2 separate regions of the Homo sapiens genome follow, and region 2 is linked to region 1. Evidence: fine-mapped expression QTL. A gene starts in region 1. The other region holds a variant in brackets. All regions are shown on one strand. Distances are from middle to middle.

What was found. PIP is the estimated chance that this variant, and not a neighbour inherited with it, causes the effect.
Region 2: its variant is the best candidate, but not a certain one, in a credible set for the expression of MAN2A1 in whole blood (TOPMed, PIP 0.84).

Annotation. Positions count from the first base shown.
Region 1 is chr5:109,684,045-109,696,884 of GRCh38, reverse strand. It overlaps MAN2A1 (mannosidase alpha class 2A member 1), which reads right to left and starts at 6,958. Exons shown (of 22, transcript NM_002372.4): 1 at 6,333-6,958. The coding sequence starts at 6,467. MAN2A1-DT (MAN2A1 divergent transcript) reads left to right here and starts at 5,786. Exons shown (of 1, transcript NR_186543.1): 1 at 5,786-9,084. RefSeq lists silencers at 6,095-6,194, 6,605-6,814, 6,845-7,364, 7,375-7,664 and enhancers at 7,775-7,874, 7,634-8,302.
Region 2 is chr5:109,789,630-109,802,469 of GRCh38, reverse strand. All of the region lies in intron 12 of MAN2A1 (mannosidase alpha class 2A member 1), which reads right to left. Among named protein-coding and RNA genes, the nearest start is that of LINC01848, 87 kb to the left of the region's middle. The variant G/A (reference allele first, on the strand shown) is at 5,848.

The DNA of each region.
Region 1 (12,840 bases):
GAATTTCAGGCATCCTGAGAAAGAATAGAGTTCACCCATCAAAAAATGCTAATTGGCTTTTTGAGCTTCGGCCTTTTGATCAATCCTTCCTAAAACACAGAAGTGCTAACGACATGTACTGGGTATAAAGAAGAGGCCACAGCCAACACAGTTTCAACAGGGATGATTCCCACTCCCAGAGGATATTGAGAGCAGTGTCTGGAGACATTGTTGGTTCCTACAACTAGGGGTACAGAGAGAGAACAGTGATGTTGGCAGATATCGGGTAGACAGCAAGGATGCTGCTAGACACCCTACAACGCACAGGACAGCCCTTAACACGAAAGAATTCTCTGGCCCAAAATGTCAACAGCAAAGAGGTTACAAAGCCTGGATAGAGGCAGCAAATGGTAGAGTATGTCCAGTTTTAAACTAAAGTACTTTCTCTTCTTTAGAAAACAGTATGTTAGATTTAGAAATTTAACATTAAGATATTTAAGAGATACCAACCAGGCGCAGAGGCTCACGCCTGTAATCCCAACATGTTGGGAGGTCAAGGCGGGCAGATCACGAGATCAGGAGATCGAGACCATCCTGGCCAACATGGTGAAACCCCGTCTCTACTAAAAATACAAAAATTAGCTGGGCATGGTGGCTTGTGCCTGTAATCCCAGCTACTCGGGAGGCTGAGGCAGGAGAATCGCTTGAACCCGGGAGGTGGAGATTGCAGTGAGCTGAGATTGCACCACTGCACTCCAGTCTGCCAACATAGTGAGACTCCGTCTCAAAAAAAAAAAAGATATATACTAGATACCTACTATCCACCTGTCTGCATAAAATATAATTACCTTAAACAGGGCACTCTTTCAGAAAAGCTATGATATGACCTCAAGTGACAGAGTTCATCAAACCAAATGATTTACTTCCTCCCTATTATAGGCACATTTAGCTATACTCACTAAAGCACTAGATGTGAGCTCCATTTCAGTACAATTAATCCTCAAACCTGTCTGAATTTAAAAATGGTTTCAAACTTAAAAATAGCAGCTTGGCTTGATAACTGAAACAGAAACCCATTTTAGTTAAAATGTCCTACTTCCTCTCCTGATTAACCTACTAATAACAACTGAGAAGCAAAAATCACTATTTTAGAGTTCTTCCTCCTTGCCTTAGTTCTGCTCAAACTTTTATAAAAGCTGCTGCTATCAGGAACTTTTACCAAGACAGAAGGGATAAAAAATGCAATAAGGCCTTTACAATCCAGCAAATACAGGTCATCAGAGCTGCTAAATATCCTTTCATTTTCTTAAAGATTACAGAAGTTGGAGAACAAGGGAAAACTAAGACTCCTGAATGCAAAAAAAGCTAAGAATAAACCAGGTGATCAGCAACAGCTAGTGAACCACTCATTCCAGGAAACTCTCAACACTTCAGTCCTTCAAAAAAGACTAAAGTTTTCAGTTATCACAAAAAGCAATAGCTGACTCAAAAACAAATAAAAGTGGTCATTTTAGCCACTATTTTGCCCACAGCCCAGACACCTCTTAATGCAAATTAAAAGCTAAGAGAGAAAATCCCCTTCCAATAATACAATTGTGACATCTCCCTGACAAAAATATTTGTTTAGGCCCTGATAACAGTGTTCATCTGGGAACAACACACCCAATTCAATTTAAAAAAAACAAAAAACAAAACATAAACTACTATCTTCAGACCACAGACAGTCATGAGTATCTGGCCCAGTTGGTTTACAGGAAATAAGTTTGGGTCTTAGTGAAAAATGCTGATCAGGAAGAGACCCACAGGGCTGTTGGACTGAAGAGGAGTTAGAGGACACCATCCTCAAAAGGCTCTAATGTTTGTTCTTGCATTCCTAAATGCTGGATGCACTATCAACGTTCCATCACTTCCCAAAAAGCACAGATCTCCGCATTATATCCCAGAAAATAAGACAATCTCCCTCATACAAACGTGAACAAACCCCAGCACCAAGTGCTATTGTTTATAAATAGACTGCACTCAAGGAAGGGGAAGGAGATCATATTTTCCTTATATGTCATTCTTAAGTAAGATTTACAGATTTATGAAAGCAAGAAAAAAACTGGGGAATCAAAGTCCTAGTTATATGTATTGCCATGAGTCAACTTTCATTAATAACATCTACTATGCTGGACTCTTAAGTACTACTGATGTAAAGTATGTAAGCACATTTCTGTATGTGTATTACAGTAAGTTAAAAAAAAAAAACACAAAAGGCAACTGGGAGCAGTGAATCACACCTATAATCCCAGCACTTTGGAAGGCTGAGGCAGGAGAATAGCTTAAGGCCAAGAATTTGAAACCAGTTGGTCAACATAGTAAGACCCCGTCTCCACAAAATAAAAATTTTAAAACTGGCTGGGCACAGTGGCATACACACCTGTAGTCCCAGCTACTCAGAAGGCTGAGGTGGGAGAATGGCTTGGGCCCAAGAATTCAAGGCCACTGCAGTAAGCTGTGATTCCATCACTGCACTCCAGCCTGGATGACAGAGCAAAACCCTATCCCAAAGAAAAAAAAAAAAAGGTATACAAGTTCTCACCTTCTAATGGCTTTCAATCAAATGCTTATTTAAAGGCATTCTCACTTTCTCACTTGATAAATGTTACATAGGCAAAAAGATAAAGTTTTAACTTCACTTTCACATTTTCCATCGGAGTCTCAATTTCCATATTTTAAGAGTTAATATTAATCTCTACGGTCATATGCTACACTAATTACTTAAAAAGTGATCATTTGTTATACAAAACCTGACTCATTAATTTACTTCTCCAGATCCAAACATCAGACTAATTAATAAGACAACCCTATTATACACACCATAGATAGTAAGCACCTTGTGAAATCTGCTTGTAAGAAGTGATGACTAATTTCAGGGAGACCTTAACAAAGTTTCTCCTTTCCATCTGCTCAAATTCTTCCAAGTTATCATAAAGCATTTTCAAGACATTAGTCTCTGACCAACCTCTCATTCACAGTGGAATTTTTATTAATTTTCTTAGCTGAGATTTATTAACCCTGAAATATACACACAAGTTTCAACAGATTAGGCCCCCTGTTGCCTCTAGTCCTCCAAGGAATTCCTCCCAGAAGCAGAAGCAAGGCTTCGGAGTGCTTCAGGATAGACTTCCAAAGAATATCTTAGAGGCAGGCAGCTGTTCCGGGGTGAGAGAAACTGGAGCACCCTCGGCCAGCCCACTCTTGCCCCAGAGTCCAGCCAAATGGTGGAAAACACCAGAGTTGTGAGAGAAGAGAAAAAGAACAAACCCCCGCTCTCCAAAAAAACAACAAATAGATTGCTCTCAATCTAGGATGGTCTTTAAAAATATCTTGTTTACAAGATAGACCTAAAGCCTAGTGAAGGTTCCGTATCAACTGAAACCAACTAAATGGGCAATTTAGAGGAACCCAATACCTATCTAAATAAACCGTTCTACTAGATACCAAAAAATGACACATAGTGACCGACCTGCTTGGCTCTACTAAAACTCAAGAATTCAATACCCAAACTTGCCAAACAAATGTATTGCAACCTCCTTTTGCTATGTTTGGTATTATTAAGAATAAGTTAGAAGCAGTGAAAAAAAAAAGAATCAACTCAAGTTCTGGATGCTGGACTACACAATGGTTTTCATTATAATGTTTAGCTCTGAAATGAGCTCAAAGACATTCTGGGAAGGGTATAAATCTCTAGCAGTAAATGTTTCAGAAAAAGGACCATATTCATTATGGCTTCAAAATAAAAGTTCCTTTAGTCATAAGCTAAGGTACCAGAGAGCAACATGCTCTATACAGGGGGCAACCAACCCCAGGGCCATGGACCTGTTAGGAACCAGGCCACACAGCAGGAGGTGAGTGGCATAGCAGGTCAGCAAGCATTACCGCCTGAGCTCCACCTCCTGTCAGATCAGCAGCAGCATTAGATTCTCATAGGAGCACGAACCTTATTGTGAACTGCGCATGCCAGGGATCTAGGCTGCATGGTCCTTATGAGAATCTAACGCCTGATGATCTGAGGTGGAACAGCTTCATCCCCAAACCATCCCCCGAAACCCCCGACTCCCCCCATCCCCACCCCTGTCTGTGGAAAAACTGTCTTCCAGGAAACCAGTCCCTGGTACCAAAAAGGTTGAGGATCACTGCTCTATATTTTACATCAGATCTTTCCATAAGCAAATGGCAGCCTAAACAGTAGGCAACAGATTCCTAAGAGGCAAGACAACTCAGTGGCTGGGAGCCTGGGCTACAAAGGCTACCTGTTCAAATCTCAGCTTGCAGCTGTGTGATCTTGGGCAAGCTAATTAATCTCTCCGTGCCTCAGTGCCTCAGTCCCCTCGCCACTTAAGTTTTACCCTGTAAGATACGAAGGCTAATGTCACACACATAACGGTTAAGCTTACAGAGGGGTCTTAGAATGTCTATCTGCTTGAGGATTCAGTGGCCGTCCAAGCACTTAAAGAATACCTTCTTTCTGCAGTGAAAATCCAGTACAGAAAATCTGAGAAAGGCAATCTTAAATGCAAAATGTTCCACCTCCCAGTTGAGTACCAACAGCCTTCCCCTCCAGCAGCCACTTTGACCTTTCATCAAATGCTTTACGCTTAAAGCAGAACTTCAGCCTCTCATTGAGGACTAAGGATAGATATTACAATACTGGAATTAGCTTTGCCTAAGATTTCTCAGTAACTGAATGAGTCACTCATGTCTTTAGATTCTGAACAGAGAAAATGTCAAGGTTGCCAGAAAACCCAGGTCCAGATGTTTGCATAAACCATTTTCAAGTGATCATCAAGCCAAAGCCAAAGGACATTATTTTAGAAAACACTTTAAGTAAAAATATCACTTTTTATGATTTTCCTGTAATGGAGGAAAATCTGAAAATGAGGTTACTGGAGGGAAAAAAATTACAGTAATTTCAACCCCAAAATTACACAACATATCAAGCTAAGCTTAAAACTCCTTACCTTTTTCCAACTGTTTTCTTCAACCTCATCAAGAAGCACTGGACAAGCTCTGAGCTCAAGATTTAAAGATGCCCTCAGTGCTTGTTTCTATTTTCTCTGTCATACTACCTAGGGGAAGCAGAGGCTTTTAAAATTTTGATACATCTCTCTGCAGCAAGATTTTTAAAACCTCTCACCGACAAAACATGTTGAGTGCTCTGTATTGATGACAGCATCCATAAAAGGGTCTTTTTTCACTTTCACAATAATTCCAGTAAAGTTTTTACTTTAATCTCAATTAAATTCAAGCCATTTGCTCTAGCATAACACAAAAAAAATGGCAAGGATATTCTTTGGTCATTTAAGTTATCACAAAAGAGAAAAAAATATATATCAACTTCACGTCTAGGCTTCTCTTTCTCGTAAGTCAAGTAGGAATAGTTAGATTGCCCTGTCAGGGTTTGAGTTCTTCAGGTTCATTCGTTACAGAGCACACTACACACTACACAATACCCAGTTTCACCGCAATTTCTGAAGTGCACGGGTTATATTGGCAAGTAACTTGAAACTGAACTCGCACATGCCGCGCGGTGGATACCCTTCCAAAGGGAACAGACTGTGTCCGCTTTGCTTATTTTTGGTAACTTTAAATAAGACTTTGGATGGGTCGTCTTCCCAACTCATTTACCAATTTAACCACTGGACGCAGGACTGAGCGCCCCACAGCTTTCGGCCGGAGTATAACACGCGCTTCCCCACTCGGTTCCCCCTGTCTGCCACAAACAAACCAGATGTAATAGCTGAAGAATGACGACACTAAAATCAACCTAGAGATTCACATCTAAAAGGGCCGCAACACGAAATAAACTTCTCTCTCTTCAGAGGCAGCGGGGAAGAAAAAGAAAAAAAAGCCTAGGTGGGTTCGGTTTGATCCATTTCCGCGACTCCGTGCGCTCAGGGGCTCTGGGCTGGTGCGGGCGGCTTAACCCTGTGAGAGCCGAGAACGACCCCACCGGGATACGCGGGCCCCGGGCTGGCGGGGGGTGCCTCACGCCGCGCCCGTTCCCCCGCCAGCAGGTGCCCGAAGCCACCCCAACAGGCCGGGTGCGAATGCCGGAACATGGCCACTTTCCTGAGCGGGATGATGCCGCCGCCGCCGCCGCACGCCGCCCAGCACTTTGTTAACTTGGCGCGCCCGGGCGAGGTGGCTCCCAGGAGGTGATCATTGCCGTCCGAGAGCTACAGAGCCCCTGGCCTCGCCCAGCACGGGTGTGGGGCCGCGGCGGGAGGAAGAGGTTGGGTAGCAGCCGCTAACCAGGGGCCCGCACGCCTGGCCCCTCGGAGCCCCGCGCCCCCTTCCCAGGTGCTTACCTGAGGGAAGGAGCCCTCGCGGCGCGGGTTCCTGGGGTAGTCTAAGTGACCCCGGTCCAGCATCAGGTAGAGCGAGAAAATCACCACACAGAAGATCGCACTGCCGAACACGGTGAACTGGCGGCTTAACTTCATTTTCCTCGATAGACTCGGGGCCAGGACACTCTCCTCAGCCAAAGGAGACAGCGCACTGTGGACTCTAGGAAGCAGCCGCCGGAGGCTCCCTTCTCCCGGGCTGCGCGACCTCCGCGCTCTCGGATGCGGGTGCGAGTCCCCGCCTTGCTCCGCACCTAGTCTCCGGCGCCACCACACGCCCTTGGCCTTCGCCCTGGCCTGCCGCCCTCCCCGGGGTCGGGCGCCCCTCTCGAGGCGAGACTCGCCGGCAACTGGGAAGGGGGGCCCCCACAAACTTGATCGCAAGCTCAGCGCCGACCTCCGGCAGGGCGCGCGGGGCAGGCGGAGGAGAGGTCGCTGCCCGCACTTCCTGCCACCGCCGCCCCAACTGAGTCGGCAGGAAAAGTTTTCTCGACGAGGGCAGGCGTGTCCTCCTCACCCAGGGGAGGCGCGGGTTCGGCAGCTCCCGGGCCGGGGCCGCGCAGCTAGGTCAGAGAAGCGGAGGGGAAAGGAACAAGATCGCGAGGAGCCAAGCCCTACAACTTCTGGGCGGGACGGTCGGGCCCGCCCCCGCGGCACCGGCACCGCCCCCGCCTACCCCGACTGAGCCCCTTCGTGCTGCTGCCGCCGCCGCCGCCGACGCTGCGGCTGGGCCGATGTGCACCCCGGACTCCGGGGCTCACGGATTGATGAGTTTCCTCAGAGCTAGCGTCCGCTCGCCAGACTCTCCCGCCCCCCGCCGCCCCTACCTTCCCCCTCCCGGACCCAGGCTCCGCGGGGAGGCGCAGGGGGCGGGCGGCGGCAACGCGGAAAGAAGGAAAAGGAGAGCAGGGAGGAAAGGACCGTCCCCGGAGAGAAGCCCGCTCCAGCTGCAGCCGCTAGCCCCCTCCCTCTTTCCCGCCCCACAAACGCGGAGATGGCGGCGGAAGCGGCGAAAGGAAGCGCCGGTTCTCCAGCGCCACTTGGCGCTCCAGCACCGCCCGCCACGAGCAGGAGGAGACAGCGGCGGCGCAGCAGCCGCTGGGTCAATAGGCGCCCGCAGCGCCTGAGCCGAGCGGGCGGCTGGCCCCGCCCCCTCCCGACGCTCCGAGATGAGGGGGCGGGCCCCACGGCGCCCAATCACAGCGCGTCGCCCGGCGGACCCGCCCCGCGCCTGCCTCCCAGTGTCCCGGCGATAGGAAGACCTCACAGGGCTCTTGTGACCTGGCAGGCAGCTTTCTGGGAGTTGAGGCCTTCGGGGGCGTTCAGGCGCCAGCACCCCCACGTCCAACAGGGGTTGAGCTTACACCCCACTTCCCTTTGTTGCTCAGGTTTCCTATCCTAGGACACTCGGGCCTGGCGTGCCTGGAAGAGTACTTGGTGACGGGCTGGAGGAAATGCAAGAGAAGAGGGCTTGCACATTCTCTTCGGGCTCACTATTTCCTCCTTTGGTGACAGCCTGTTAAAACCTGGGGGAAAGGAGACTGACAAAGGGCCGTCCAGGCACATGTAGAAACATCTGACTACGAAATCCATGAGTGTAATCTGAGAAGTGATGCTTCTGCCAGTTATTGATTTATTGCCTCTCAGCTCCAAATTCGCCCTTTTTGACTGCACTGTAAAAACGGATCTGAGCCTTTTAAACAGTTTTTCGTTTGCCTTCTGGGACTGAAGCTTTATCAGCAGAGGGCGCTGAAGAGACATTACAGAAAAAAAGGATTTTGCTTCCTGATTTCTGTGTATTGATAAGCTTTTGCAGCATACCTGGCTTTCTCCACTGCCAAGGTCCTATAGTGCTCAGTAACTAGCAATTTCCTCTCACATGCCCAACTCTAGGAGCTTTGTAGAGGAGGTGAGACACTACCCCATGAATAACTTCCCTGGCACCCTAGAGGCATTTGCAGCAAGTTGCAGAGGGCACATCTTCCACAAGCTTTGCAGACGTAGCCCAATGGTGACTTCTCTGCCATTCAGTGAGCCAGGTCATGCCCTCTCCAAAAACGTCTAGATCTTAGCCCTGGGAGGAATTGGGGAGGTTCTTCATTGGGCACTCTGTCTCTCAACCCAAGAGTTAGTTATAAGGTTAGCTCCTTATAGCTGCTGTTGCTATATTCTTTAAAGTTCTCTTCTTGCTAGTGAATCCTTCATTACTCTAATCCTCTATTATAGTTAACAATTCTTTTTATTAAGCCTTCCCTGTCCCGGGAGTAGTCCCAAGAAATAGACCTGCAAAGATGGGATTAAAGGTCAGTTTGATTGAGGTTTTGAGCTTTAGCTCCTTGCCAAAGGGAAATGTAATTCATGACATGCTGGGCATCTCAATTAAGCAATTACCTGTGGTTGATCCTGATGAAGTGCCAACTGAAGCCTGTGCCTTGGGGCCCCAAGTGGCTGCTACACTTGACTGCTATGGTTATAAAGATGACTAGAAAGACTGGTGTGGGATGGATTCTTTTGCGTGCTTTTGAGTGGTTATAAAGAGAAATGACAAGCACAGGTTTTTTAACTCTCAGAGTTATGGTATGAGAACCAGAGATATTCTGCAGAATTCCAAAAGCTCTGGTTTATTGTAGCAACAAGAATTATGCTGAGAATCAAACAAAATTTTAATTTTCATGTTACTGAATTATAACTGCTATTAAATTCACACATATTCTGAGTTTTTCGTGTAAAATGGTGTTATTTTTTAATAATAGAATCTCAATACTTGAAATGGGTTGGACCCAGATGAAACCGACAATCTTAAACACGCCAACTCTTTCTCTTATCAGTGGAAGTAGGTTGCCCTCCAGTGTCTAAAGAGACTAGCCTTGCTTGAAAACCTTGACTATAGAGGATGCCACTATCTAGATGGGCTCCCTGATTTCAATGGGGATGACACGATCTCAGAATAGCAGAAACCAGGCAGCACATAACCAACAAAGACAAGGTGGGCGCACATGTACCTTAAAGGGCAGCAGGAAATCAGACTGCCTTGGCTTACGGAGCTGCTCTGAGAACAAAATAGATAGGCAGTTGAAATAGATTATTGCTTGATATTTATAACAGGTAAAAAGATCTAAGTCAGGTAGCCAAAACCTGACTTGAGTCACCACAGTGGATAGTCACAGTCTCTCAGTTCTCAGACCTAAGTCAATTCACAGACCCATAGTCCCTTGGTTGAAAGAGAATCTGTGTTCCCTTTAAGAAGGATCTTGCACCTTGGCTACAGTACACATGGCAAATTCTTTCAAGCTTTCCCCAAAACGACATGTGGCCATTTACTAGTGAAACTGCATTGGCGAAAAGGAAATACACAGATCATTTGAGGTTTACTAAACACTGGCTCTGAGTTGATGCTAATTCCTGGGGACAGAAATCACCACTGTTAGTCCACATACCAACTATGTGGCTACTTTCCCAGTGTAATTGGAATATGTATTAACAGCATAATTTTAATGGCAAAAACAGCAATTACTTTTGCACCAATCTAATAATTGTAACAGACATACTTAGCAACTGACAGGATCCCCACATTGGGATTTAGCCATAGAATGAGGGCTATTATTAGGGAGAGCTAAATGGAAGCTCCAGGAGCTCTTAGAGCTTCCACTTAGCTCACTAAACACAACACTGCATGGCTGGCAGGAATTGCAGGAATCAGTGCTATCATAAAAGTCTTAAAAGGAGTAGGAGTGGTGATACTTACTCTCATTTAATTCACCAGTACAGGATACATCTAGTAGAATAACTGTGGACTCATAAACTTAATCAGGAAGTGATTCCAATTGCTGCTGCTGTCTCAAATGTATTATTTTTACTGAAACAAATCAACATAGCACTTGGCACTTGGTATATAGCTACTGATGTGGCTAATGCTGTTTTCTCTATATCTGTTTGTAAAACCACCAGAAGCAGTTGGCTTTCTCATGTTAGGGCCAACAGGATACCTTCACAGTATTGTCTTGGGGGTATGTCAATTCACCTTAATATAGTCCACAGAGATATTGATTGTCTTGACATACCATCAAATATCACACTGGTCCACTACATTGACAACATTATGCTGATTGGACCTGATGAGCAGGAATTAGTAAGTATTTTAGGTGCTGTAATAATATATATTTGAACCAGAGAGAAGGAGATAATGATCTTGAGTATGAGATGACAACTCTAAAGTGGTCACTTCGGATGTGGGATATGTTCTAGGATGGTAAAGCTATATGAGGACAAAACCACTGAGTCACTGAGAGATGAATCCAAACAGATGGTGTGGGTTAGCAATGGTTAGGATTTGGGGGAAAAGGGGCAAAGTGATTGTTGCAGGGACTGGTCATACCAATCACGTGGCCATGGAAGGAAAGTGGTATAGGCTGAATGTTTCTCTTTAAAATACACGTGTTGAAGTCCCAACCCCCAGTACCTCAGAGTGTAATAGTATTTAGAGATAAGGTCTTTAAAGAGGAGATTAAGTTAAAAAGACGATTAAGTTAAAATGAAGCTGTTAGTAAGGCCCTAATCCAATCTGACTGGTGTCCTTATAAGAAGAGAGAGAGACCAGGGATACATGCACACAGAGAAAAGACCATGTGAGGACAGATTGGGATGGCAGCCATCTGCAAGCCAAGGAGAGAGGCCTCAGGAGAAACCAAACCCGCTGACACTTTGATCTTGGACTTCTAGCCTCCAGACTGAGAAAATAAATTTCTGTTGTCTAAGTTAGCCAGTCCTTAGTATTTTGTTATGCCATCCCTAGCAAACAAATACAGAAGGCAACCACCCAGCTGATAGAAAATACTAGGTAGGTGCAAAAGTATTTGCGGTTTTTGCAGGTAATGGCAACTGTGATTTTTTAAAGGTAATGGCAAAAAAACCGCAATTACTTTTGCACCAACCTAATATTTGCAAACCACATATTTGTTAAGGGACTAATATCCAAAATATATAATGAACCCACATAATTCAATAGTAAATAAATAAATAGCCCAATCTTAAAATGAACAAGTCACCTGGATAAACATTTTTTCAAAGAAGACATACAAATGGCCCACAGCTAATATTAAAAGGTGCTCTAGGTCGGGCACTGTGGCTTCTGCCTGTACTTCCAGCACTTTGAGAGGCTGAGGCGGGCAGATCACTGGTGAAATCCGTTCTCTATTAAAAATACAAAAATTAGCCATGTGTAGTGGGAGGTGCCTATAATCCCACCTACTGTGGAGGCTGAGGCAGGAGAATCGCTTGAAACCAGGAAGCAGAAGTTGCAGTGAGCAGAGGTTGCACCACTGCACTCCAGCTTGGGTGACAGAGCAAGACTCCATATAAAAAAAAAAAAAAAGGTTTTCTAATCATCAGGCAAATGTAAATGAAAGCCACAATGAGATATTACCTCATACCTGTTAGGATGGCTACTAGAAACATGTCAAATAATAATAAGAGTTGACCAAGAAATGGAGAAAAGGAACCCTTGTGCACTATTTATAGGATTATAGACTGGTAGGCCATTGTGGAAAACAGTATGAAGTTCTTAAAAACTTAAAAATAGAACTACCACATTATCCAGCAATCCCACTCCTGTGTATATATCCAAAGCAACTTCTCTTTTTCAGAAAATTAATTTGGATGATCTTGATCACTTATTTACTTTACTGAAATAAGATTTTACTATCACTTATGAAAAAGCTGTATGTTTTCCTATTGTTACTAACATATGAGTCTTTAGGTCTCCAAAAGCTGACAATAGCCATTCCAAGAGATGTGAGGTGTTATCTCATTAGATAGCTGCACTCCCATTTTCATTGCAGAATTATTCACAATAGCCAAGATATGGAATAAACCTAAGTGTCCATCAACAGACAAATGAATAAAGAAAATGTGGTATATATAAACAATGGAATACTATTCAGCTTTTAAAAAGGAAGGAAATCCTATCATGTACAACAACTTAGATGAACCTGAGGAACATTATGTTAAGTGACATAAGCCAGACTCAGGAAGACAAATACCTCATGATCTCACTTATACTGGTATGTGGAATCTAAAGAAGTCAAATTCATAGAAATAGAAAGTTGTATGGTGGTTGCCAGAGGCTGGGAAGTGGAGGAAATGGGGGGATTTTGGTCTAAGGGTATAAACCTTCAATTATTAGATGAATAAATTCTGGAGAGCTAACAAACAGCATGGTGACTATGGTTAATGATACTGTATTGTGTACTGAAAATTTGCTAAGAGGATAGATCTTAAGCGTTCTCATCATCCACAAAATAATGGTAATTATGTGAGGTGATGGATACGTTAATAAGCTTACTTGTGGTAATCACTTTATAATGGATACATGTATCAGAACTTCATGTTGTACACCATAAATATATACAATTTTTATTTACCAATAATACCTCAATAAAGCTGGAAAATAGATTGATAGATAATTGATAAATTG
Region 2 (12,840 bases), 110 kb before region 1:
GAACTACAATCTCTAAACTGTGAAATCCAAAAAGCTCTGAAAAAATCAAAAGCTTTTTTATAACTCATTTGGTAGTAAATCTAAACAGAACTGACATGAAGCTTTATAGAATCTTTATTTTTTGATCGGAACATTCAGAAATTTCAAAGGAGACTGTGCAATAATATGCCACATATGCACAGTACTTTCCTAAAATTAAAAAGAATTCTGAACCCTCACATACATCTACCCCTGAAGATTTCAGGTAAGGCACTGAGGGTTTGTCTTATGGGCAGTCTACACAGTACAGTATAAATCACAGGTCACTTAGAAAAGAGACCTTGCCTGTGTAGGTTCTGAGCAAGAAAGAATCAAGAAGAAATGAAAGAGGCAAGAAAATATGAACACATACCAGTACAGTGCTGCCCAAGACAGAAATACAAAGTAAATTTGTCACTGAATGAATGAATGTATGAATCAAAGAATAAGGAACTATATTTTAACATAGGCCCACATAGTCCTACAAATAAACAGGAAATGTTTAAGAATAAATATTCTATTTTCTTAATATTTAAATAACCCAAATCTCAATTGTATATATATGCTCTTATTTTATGAGCTTTTCTTTATCTCTTTAAATTTTTAATTTTGCAGCATCTAATTATGTTTTGGTTTTAGAATATGTAGAAAATTTTTCAGTTTCATTGTGTTTGGTATGATTTTCCTAACTGATAAGTCTTGAGAACATGTTTTAAAGACATTTCTAACAACCATTACTGATTTATTCAGTATAGACCTGCTCCTAGAGTATTCAGAACACAACTCCAGTCCCTGAGCCGAAGTGGGCAAGGAAGAGTAGCTGACAGAAAATCTGGTAGCTGCTTTTTGATCTAGTTAATGAATCTAATTTGCAGATGCTGCTCCTTCCTACCCAACAACCATTATCTCTTTCTCCTTTATTGATAGAAAGCCAATTTTATTTAGGATGGCAACAGTCATAGCTTAAAAAACAAAATCAAAATGAACAACAAAAAAAACCTGCTTCCCCATGCTAGATGCAGACATGTGGCACAGTTCTGGACAATGACATGTAATTAGAATTCCAGTATGTGGAAATTCTGACAAAGTTACTGAGTCCCCAGTTTATCCCAACTGCCATGACCTTCCTCCTTTGCTCATCCCTCTTTCTGGACGAAACACAGATGTACTGTATGTAGAAGCAGGAACCATCCTGAGTTCACAAGAACAAGAGCCACAGGCTAACAGTGGTAGAGCTAACAGGTAAAAGCAGCCTGGACTTTTGACGGCACCATGGAACCCATCATGAGCCCTAACTACCTGCCTTGAAACTTGTCCATAAGAATAATAAAAGGCTTTCTTCAGAAGCCATTGTAATAAGGTTTCTGTTGTATGCAGTTCAGTGCAATACAAAATGAAACACTATACATACAAGAAGTCATATTGGGTAACAAAGGAAAGCCAACAAGTACAAAAAACTTCACCTTTAAAGAAGAAAACAATGAATGCGAGATGATTCTAAATCAAAACTTTTCCCATAAGGGTTCATCACTATGGATAAATTATTTAATTGCCTAATGATTACATGACTTTTTCTCATAATTTTCACTCTCTCCACCTCCAATTTTTAGTTATTAGTTTAGCAAACACCTCCTATGTACCAAGCACTTCTTCCATATTTCACTCAACCATTCACAACTTCAATTCAAACAAGTCATCTTCATTTACTCCATAAAACTTGAAAACACAAATTTCATAAAAACTTAAGTTAAAATCCCAGAATTTACCAGCCCTATGTTCTCTATTACAAAAAGAAATGCTAATTTAGGCATCTTTTAAAAATCTTTCTATATAACTTACACATGTAGAATATTTGACCAATTCATTACTGATAAACATTTAAGTCTTTTAAAATATTTGTTCACATGATAAACAAAGCTGAAATGCACGTCCTTTTCCAGAGTTCTCTCCACCTCCATATCTGATTATTTCTGCAGGACAGATTCCCTCTAGTGCAATTCCTAGCTCAAATGCTACTGGCAGTAGGTCATTTTCCTTAAAGATTTGCTAGGCACCATTTTGGAATAATGAACAAGACCAACCCATACCGGCAAGAGGTTTATAGCAAGTCTCTTCAGAGGACTATTACGCAGGCATTTAGTGGGTAAACACAGTCCCATGGAGTCATATGAGAACACTACCTAGCTTCAAGGATCTCAACCAAGTTTCCAGAGGATGTAAGATGTAACATCTAAGCTGAGTTCTAAAAGACAATCAGAAATTTATCAGGCAAATGGTGTATGTGTGCATGTGCATGTCTGTGTGTGTGCACATTCGGGTGCATCTAGAGGTGAAGTCTGAGGTTGTTTTTTTTTTTTTTTTTTGAGACAACAGTCTCACTCTGTTGCCCTGGCTGGAGTGCAGTGGCGCAATCTTGACTCACTGTAACCTCCACCTCCCCGGTTCAAGCAATTCTCCTGCCTCAGTCTCCCAAGTAGCAGGGATTACAGGTGCATGCTACCACTCCCGGCTAATTTTTGTATTTTCTGTAGAGGTAGGGTTTCACCATGTTGGCCAGGCTGGTCTCAAACTCCTGACCTCAGGGGATCCACCCACCTCGGCCTCCCAAAGTGCTGGGATTATAGGGTAAGTCACCATGCCCGGCCAAGATTGGAGATTTTTTGTTGTGATTTGGTTCTTTCGCTTTTTTTTTTTTTTGAGACGGAGTTTTGCTCTTGTTGCCTAGGCTGGAGTGCCATGGTGCAACCTCGGCTCACCACAACCTCCACCTCATGGGTTCAAGTGATTCTCCTGCTTTAGCCTCCCAAGTAGCTGGGATTCCAGGCATGCGCCACCATGCGCAGCTAATTTTGTATTTTTAGTAGAGATGGGGTTTCTCCATATTGGTCAGGCTGGTCTCAAACTCCTGACCTCAGGTGATCTGCCCGCCTTGGCCTCCCAAAGTGCTGGGATTACAGGCATGAGCCACTGCGCCTGGCCTGCTTTTTTGTTTTTTTTAACCCCCCAGGTAGTAAAGATGTAGAGGTAATATAACAAAAAATGGAGTGTCCAAGAATTGATAGTTCTCTGAATTTTTGTGTTCTGAATAGAGTCATTGTGGGGCTGGAGCACATAGTGCAGACTGAGCTGATGCAAGAGATGATGCGAGAGACAAAAATACAGGCACACAAGCCACGTTAAAGAGTCTAGAGTTTATCCTTAGGGTAATGGAAAAAAGAAGGGTTTTGAGCTAAGTTACATCATTGCTAATATTAGTTAAGTGCCTGCTAAGCGCTAGGTCCCATACTATGAAGTTCATACACATAACCGTATTAAACTCCGCCAACAAATGTGTGAGGCAGGGACATCTGTCACAGGGTTATTACCATCACCCAGTGGAGGGACAGTAGCAGTCTGAAGCAGGGTAGTAGCATTGAAGATGAAGAGGACAAATTTGAGACACATTTAAAAAACAGAATGAGGCTGGGTGCGATGGCTCACACCTGTAATCCCAGCACTTTTGGAGGCTGAGGTGGGCGGATCATGAGGTCAGGAGATAGAGACCATCCTGACTAACACGGTGAAACCCAGTCTCTACTAAAAATACAACAACAACAAAAAAAATTGGCCCAGTGTGGTGGCGGGTGCCTGTAGTCCCAGCTACTCAGGAGGCTGAGGCAGGAGAATGGTGTGAACCTGGGAGGCGGAGCTTGCAGTAAGCCGAGATTGTGCCACTGCACTCCAGCCTGGGCGACAGAGCGATACTCCATCTCAAAAACAAAACAAAACAAAACAAAACAAACAAACAAAACACAGAATGAAAAGGTCTAGCATGTGTTTGGATACGAGTTGAAAGTAAAAAAGACAAGATGATCAGGGTAGCCCCATAATTTATTGTCCAAACTAATTTTGAGAGTGAAAGAGGCTAATAGTGAAAAAACTGTCATATCTGGTCACTCTAAAATTGAAAGAGCTTGGGACCACAGAACAGGTTCAAGCAGGGAAGAGGAGTTCCGTTTTAAACACGGTGAAATGGAGCTGCTAATGGGCCATCCCAAGAGAGCTATCCACTTGGCCAGTGGGTCTAGAACTTAGGAGACTTTTCTCAGCAGAGACAGATGTTTGAGGAGTTAACAGTACACTGATAGTAAGTGAAGGCAATGGAATACGAAATATCACTCTCACCAGAAGTTGGTATTTTTTAAATCTTCTTGAAGAAAAACTATTATTTAGGATCTCCTATATGCTCCTGCCTCTCCACCTATTTCAGGCATTAATATAACCTGAAGCTGCAGATCCATGGTGCTGTTAAATTCTATCAAAACTAAATGGACACTTCTACCTTTAGTTTGACAATAAAATTGACAATAATGATTTAGATTTCACTACGTCTAATTGTTTCCAATGCCTTTTTAATTCTTCATTTTTAATTGCTAATTTTAATTCATCTATCAGTCAGCTGAACTGACCTCATCAAGAAATTTTTAAAATTTCTTTTTAAAAATATGGGAAGTGTGCCTGTGGTATAAGTGTTTTCATATCTGAAAATGTCTCTCTACTACCTTCACATATGAAAGATAACTTTGAGTATAAAATGATTTCAAAACTTCATAGTCTTCCTGTCTAAGTCAGTCTAGCGTTTGTTCTATATTATACAATATAGTCTTTCTGCCTGGGCACTTTTTTAATATGTCCTTTTTCCTTTTAGTTGAACTAAGTTACCATGGTGTACTCGGGGTGGCTCTTTTTTCATTTTTATTACCCAGCACTTATCCCTCTTCATCTATAAAGGGAGGCCTTTTCAGCTCAGAAAACTTTTCATCAATTATATCTTTGATCATTGCCTCTGCTGTATTTTTTCCTAAAGTTTTTTAATTCTTTTGTTGGAATCTTGTCCTCCATACCGATCATCATCTTCCTTCTCATTGTTGGCATTTGTCTTCCTTTTGTCTACATTCTTAAAAAAGTATCTCATGGACTTTTTTTTCACATCCATACCCTCTTTCAGTGTCAGCTTTACTCTTCAGCATCACTAGTGAAGATGGTCTGTTATTGCCCCTCCAACAATCTCTCCTTATCTCACTCCTCTCCTCTTCCAAATATTTTCATTTTCATTTTTTGTCATCTTTTTGTTTCAGTGTTTCACCTTGTTTCATATTTCTCAGAGATTATAACTCAAAACTTTTTGAGAGTTCCAGGTCCTCTTTTTTTAAAAAAATTTTCATCTGGTCTCTGTAATAAATCATTTTAATAAGTAAGCTACACTTCTGAGTCTTCATGCTGCACCCTATTTTTTAATCAGTCTGTAGAGCTTTTTCACAGCTCTCCTATGACAACCTTTCAATCACTTATCCTCAAAGAAGTAGACATTTACCTAGACTCTGTGTTTGCTAAAACTACCCTTGGTCCTTTTTATTTTGATATTAGCTGAAGTCCTTCTCTAACGTAGTTAGTTTATTTGACAAATATTTGTTGAACACCTACTGTGTGCCAGGTATTTGCCAGGGGATGCAAAACCAAACAAGCTCTCTACCCTCATGGAGCTGCTAGTCTACCAAGTGAGACACACAATAAGGAATAAATGACATGGCCAGTTTGTTAATAATGTCATGAAGGATGTAAAGAGGATTCAGTGATGGAGAAAAAGAGTGGGTGAATAATAGGCTCACATGCATGGATCCAGCCTGATCGCAAGTTTCCAAAAGGTTTAATATCCAAGGTGGCTGTGCCTGATTGGTATTCAGTCTTCTATACCAGCTCTGATTCTGAACAAAGGGAAGGCTTCTTTCTTCAACAAAGAATATCACAGTATTCTTGCCCATGCCACCACCAACAGCAATTTCCTTGAGC[G/A]GACTTTCCTAGCTCAATGATCTATCGTTAAGTTTCCTTGTTCCTGCCTACTTTATTTCTGGCAGATTTAGTCTCCAAATTGATTGCAAAATATGGACACAGTGGAAGCCCTTTCATCAATGTGATCAAGGCTGGCAATAGATCTATTAACAGAAAGAGTTAAAGTTGAGCTGAAAATAAAAGTTAAAGTAGAAGATCATTATGATATGTATGTGTTATTCTTAATATTTTACTTTACCATGAAATATATACATGTATCATATTCAAAATATGCAAATCCTTTGACTATGGAACCAGTAATTGGAGTTTTCATATTTTCTGCATAACCAAACATGTGATAATCTTCTGTGGTTCCAAGCTTAGGTTTCTCTAAAGTATAGCAAGAACTTAAACTCAAAAATGTTAAGAAAATCTGAGTGCAGCCGGCTTCTATATTTTTATGATTTCTTCCCAAATCTTTTGCAGTCATCTCGCCAACATTTATCAGTGACTCACCTTTGCTGAATATTTCCAAAGTCCTCAACTTCATAAAAAAGGGTTTTTATGTAATTCAACAGCGTAATAAAATGGTTTATGAGAAAAAAATAACAACAACTTGTTTAGGAATAAATAACTGATTCATGATAATCACACAACTGAAAGACTGGAGGGAGGGAAGTACATTGGCCTGCTAGCTAACAGCCTGTTAGCTACAAGGCCACATTACCATGGGCACTGAAAAGGAATGAAGAGTGTCAGTTGATCTACTTGGTCAATTAAATGAAGATGGTCAACAGAGACCTTAGGCAGGGAGGAAGAAGAGAAAAAAAAGAAAAGCTACCTAACTTCCTAATAGCCTCAAAAGTAGCACTCTTCCAATAGAAAAATATTTGTTCACTTTTCTAGTTGATATAATACCAGAATTTGAAAGCCTTGGGGGTAGACATTATGAAAAGGAAAAGGAATCATTCTCCATACTTGCTTTAAAAGACATGCAGGTTGCTTTTATTTCTAACTGCTTATCATTAATCAGCAAGTAATTGCATTTTTCAGACCAGTTCTATCAGCTTTGTAGTTTGTGGACATCTTAGATTGTGATAATACACTGACTGTCAAGCCAAGGTTTTGGTATTCCTACAACTGTTCATCATCTTCTACATTTTCATATGAGCTTTAATGGGAAACTAAGAGTCAGTCTCATGGTCTCTAGTCAGCCATCACGTAAACTGGAAGTGTCAACTATTTTTTTAATATAATAGATGTTATTTAATTTCAGTCAATGTGAGGTTGAAACAGTATGTCAGGAATTAATACTCATCATTCCTGATGTCATAAAATACATAGAAATGCTAAGGGTGGGAGGGACTGGAACAAAGGTGGAGCCTTTTCTCCTCATTTCCTCCCCAAGAGACCTTTATATTTTCTTGAAAAATTAGGCAAAATGTAATCCTGTGATGACTGAATTGGAATGGCAAACACCAAATAAGATTATTTTGTATTGCTACCAAGCCATGACTGCTCCAACACTAGTACCAACCACTAGTCAATGCAAATAATTTTTAACATAAAATTAACTAACGTAGCATCTTGCAGGTACCTTGAATTCCTTAAGAAACTTTTGGTTATTTACATAATATAACATATTCCATTCAGTCTTTTGGATAAAGCATCCTTTCTGAAAACACTCCAGTAGACTACAGACAAGATGAAAAGTGCTTCTGGATAATCAGGGAACTAGCCAACCTATACCTTGAAAAAAATCAGAGTTAACACATAACAGAGACAGAACATAGGTGAAAACATACAAATACCTTTTACAAGCAATATATATTTAAACAGAAAAGCATCCTAGAGGACAGTTTATAAACTCATCCTTCAAATCCAATAAAATTCATAAATACACTGTACTATTAATGCCTAGATACAACTAAACTAGACTGGAATACAGAATAGCTTAGTTTTTATGTGTTTAAGAGTCTCTAGGACCATCAGTTACTAATTCCCTCACCAAAAGAAAAGTTCAAAACAGCTTTATTTAAAAGGTAAAAATATCTCAGCTTTTCTCAAAATAACAGAAGCTGGAGAGGGTCCAGGATGTCAAATCCTGTATTCTATTATTGCCTTGAATTCTTTAGGATAATTAAAAAATATAGCCGACCAGTTTCAAGAAAGAAAACCTTTAATCTTACTGACTTTTTACACTCATTTTTCTGTTAACTAATGGAAAGACATTTCTATATACTAGTTTTCTAGTACGTGTCAAGGTTTAAGCTTAAACCATCATAATCCATGAGCTATTAAGGACAGTTCCTGGACTAATTATCGCAGCTAACACTTCCATCTCCTCCACAGTTGAGCACAAAGTGCGCTCCCTCTGTACACTAACAGCTCTTTCACCAGACTCACTTCTCAGACTAGAGCCGCCTTGGTTCAAGTCATGGAATCTCACTTCCGCCGTTAAGCTCCAAATGCCTCTATCAAATAATGCTGCCACAATCTGAGTGGTCAGAATTCTATTTTCCTAGAAATTCCATTTCCAAACAATAAAAATAAGGTTGCGAGTTTGGCTTCTTCATTTAAAACTTATGTGTAAACAACTGGTAGAGATATTAGATATTTTCTAAGACACATTCTTACTTGGTATAAAAATATATTGATAACATAAGAAAAGAAAAAAGCTAGCCTTGAATCCCATTAAACTAATAGATAATTAGTGCCAGAAGAATTGTTTACAATAACAATATTAAAAATACAAAATGTAGAATCAGGCTATGTTGATCATAACAATAAGTCTTACATATAAAAACCAATCTGATAAAGCCAATTCATTCAGCTATTTGGAACTATCTTTTATATCCATCCATTCTGAACATTCACCCAATATCCAATCTTAACGAAGTTAACTCTGTAAGAATGCAATGATGCTGAGATGCAATCTGAAATTTTTCAGGTCTCATGGTATAAAACTAAAATCTTAAATGGACAGTTATACAAATTCCAAGCTTTATTGAATTATGGTTTATCTTTATTTGTAACGGTCTTAAAGTTTACTTAGAAGCACTCTGGCACCCAACCTCCAAATATGAGACCAAAGAACCACCTGAGGAGAATATATACCAGGATACCACATTTTCACATAGAATGTGAACCATGTTCTTCTATGCATATCTGGTGTCTGAAGCTTAATATTCTCTTCAGTCAATATTTAAATGTATTTCAATGAATCTGTAATTACTCTTGCTATGTTGCATATAATACCACAGGCATGATGCTAGAAATAAAGAAATAATTCCTACTCTCAAGGAGTTTACAATCTACTGTGATTAACTTTAAATAATTATACTGGAAGAAACAAGCCAGCATTAACTGCCAGCCATATGAGTGACCCATTTTGGCCTGATCTAGGTAGAAATTTGGGGCTAATAGCATAATGGGATGAGACTTTGGACATCTTGGGAGGTGGGTGAGGTTACTCCGTACATGAAAGGTATGTGAACTGAGGTAGCCTATAGGTGAACTGTGATAGCTAGTCTCCGAAGATGACTACCATCATTCCCACTGCTTCCTATACATGCTCCTCACATCAGGAAATGGAGAGTAATTCCCTCCCCTTGAATCTTGGCTAACCTTAATGACTTCCTTGACCAATAGAATGTAATGAAAATGGCCTTCTAGGACTTCCAAAGCTAGGTCTTAAGAAGTCTTGCTGTTTCTACCCAGAAAACTCACTTTTGAGACTTTCAATCTTAAAACACTCCCCCTTGGAACCAGCCACTATGGTTAGAGAAGCCCAAGTCATATGGAGAGGCCATGTGTAAGTACTGGCAGCTAACAGCTCCAACTGAACCCTCAGCCAACAGGGAGCACTAACTTTCAGCAATGTATATGAGCCCTCCTGCACACTGAGCCCAGTCAAATCTTTGGGGAACTCCAGTCCCAATCTCCAATTGCCTGCAATGGTATGAGAGACCCCAAGCAAGAACTGACCAGCAGTTCTACAAAAACGTGGGAAATATAATAAATTGTATTTAAGACATTAAGTTTTAGATTAGTTTGTTAGGCAATAGTCTACTAAAACATTTGACCATCAGGTCAGACTTTCCTCAATAGGTAAGAAGAAGTACCTAGAGAATGCTGAATTTAGAAGTGACTTTCTCAGAGCTCTGTTTTTGGCTAGATTCCTCTGATAACTTCATGTAATAAATAAGGGGCATAGGAAATTGAAGACAAAAGGGTAAGAAGCTGTTGAAGTAATTCAGGCACGAAGTATGGCTTAGAACCAAAAAGTAACAGGAAAAGAGAAGATGCATTTCACAGATGAGAAAAAAAAGACTCTCCAAGTGATGAAATTTAAGGAATAATAAAAGGTAGAGGTCAAAGTAGGTTCTGGGATTTCAGAACCTAGATAACTAAAAAGATAACAATACTTTTAATCAAGACTGGCATCCAAAAGGAAAGCATGTATGGAGAAAATCAGAGGAACTTAAATTATTGGTGCTGGGAGGTCATCCAGGGAGAACCATTAAACAAGCCAATGGCAATGCGTTATGGGAGGGCTTTTCTTTTTATATCTTAGTTGATATTCTGAAGTATCTGTTTTCTACACAAAAACTACGAATCCACACATGATATAGCTCACATAACTGTGTGAACTAAATTAGGCATATCAACATGTACTAATGTCACTTTAAACAGATCTTGGACTACTTTTTAAATACTTACAAAGTTATGTTAGGTTTATTGCTATAACTAATATTGCCAACAGCATGATCAAATTTACGTGTATTATTTATATTCTATGGGTTTAAGTTAGTATTTCTCAATCTTTTTTACATTATCACCTCCCTAAGGACTCTTTTTAGACATTTACTAATCACCCACATACAATTTTAATGCCACACACAAACTGTTTACCTGTTACGTACTATATCTGTGCTTTATATATTAAAAAGAGTAAGATTTTCTTCAAATCCCCAAAAACCAATTTTCACTCTCTTGGAAAAAATATCTCCCCCATCGAGAATGCATGGTTTATTTAGAGAGATAATTTGTTACTCAAACAGGAACTGTGTTTATAACTAAAAAAAAAGCCAACCCTTACAACATTAAAGAAGACTCATGAAGAATATGACAAAGACTCACAGCCACACCTCTAAGGCTTCCAATTTAAAAACTGAAAAGGGCAATTATTTTACTTTCAGTACCTGCTAAATAAAACAATCAAATTCTTCCATTTTAAAGGCCACTATCATTCCTTCATTGTTCATCTATTTTTACTGACAGATCAGTAACTAAAATAATTTGCAGCTAACAAGTAAAATAGAGATTTTAAAACCTAAAATCTAAGAAGCCCTAACCTATAAAATGGATAATAAGCATAAAAACAAATAAGAATCTGCCAATCAGAAGTATTCCTAATTTACCAACCTACAGAAATAGGAAGTCAATATTTGATAAAAAAAGAACTGTAAAGAAGTAATAGGAAGATAAACCCTATACTATTTAAATAAAAACTATTTAAAAAGAAATATCAAAAAGCAATCATTTTACTAATAGCCCCCGAAATTCCATTTATGTTTACCTGTAGTTAAAACTCCTCAATATGAAAGCTTAAAAATATTTTTCTCTTTCATTAATATACTACATTTCCTAACTTTCTTCTTCTGGCATTAGAAAGGCAAAATTATCAATTATTGTTTGCTAAGGCAAAGACAGTGAAGGAAGGAGATAAACTAAAGGGAACATCTTTTCTTCTGACCTATTATGGTTCCAGCCCTGCCTCACTGCACCCAGCATAAGAGCACCCAGAGATGGGGCACAAATCACTTATATCAGCATATATTATTCTTATAACCAGCAAAAACAAAGATCTTCCTCCACCAAAATATAAAAAGAAAGAAAAGTTAATAGATGAGAGAACTATGCCTAAAGCCAAATAGATTTACTAATGCCAGAGTTTACTAGGAACACAATATTTAAGGAACAGGCATATAACCCCAAATGCATCAAAACATAACTTATTTTAAGACAAAGAAAACATTTTGTAATTTTATAAGAAATATTTCTTTCAGTGTCATTATCCTTTCATCCTAACTATGACCTGGCAATCTGAAAGCTCCTAAGGCTTCTGCCGTGTTACAGAGAACATTAGTATTACTAAAATAAAAAAACTTATTATCTCGTTCTAAGGAATAAGCTGTATACACCTTATGTCTCTACTTACTAAAGAAATTTAGACAACTAAGACTTTAGTCTATGCTTAACAAAAAGTCTCAACTTTACTAGCAACTATAAATTCTTTTTACATTCATTCCATTTATTTTTAAATAATTTTAATAAAATATATTTAGTTGAAATAATGAATTACTCTTTGAAATTATTGTTTTATCCTATAATTGGCAAGAGGAGGTACTAAATATCTTGATTCTGACAGTTAAAGGTTATATTACAAAAAATAACCACTGTGTGCCTGGGTCAACTAGGAAATGACCAACAAATATTTGGTTATTAAAAACAGATACCTTGCTGTTTAAAGAAATACCAATAAAACATAATGCATTTCTTTATAATTATTAGGTAGCCACCAATTAAATGCCCTGGTTTAAGGTCACTGAACACCCTTCCCATTTACTTTAGCATAAATCAATAGTGCTAAAACAAGGCTGTTTCACCAGCAAAATGACAGTTATCTAATAAACAATTTACAGTAGAAACCTTGATCTTCCAATAATAATAAAGTTTCTTCTTTCATATAAAAATAGGATCAGGGATTAATGAAAACAAGGTAGTTAAATGAAAGGTTAATCAAGAAAGGATATAATCTGAAAATTTTATAGAGATAAGAAAATGTTTTATAAGCTATATATTTATCATGCTATACCTTATATCTGTGAGAAATATTGTTATAATAATTTATTCAGCAGTCAATATACTAAGCACTGTGTTAGCTATTGGCACTGAGCATAACACAGTCATGAAAGAAAATCCATTTTTTAGGAGTTTTTTAATTAATAA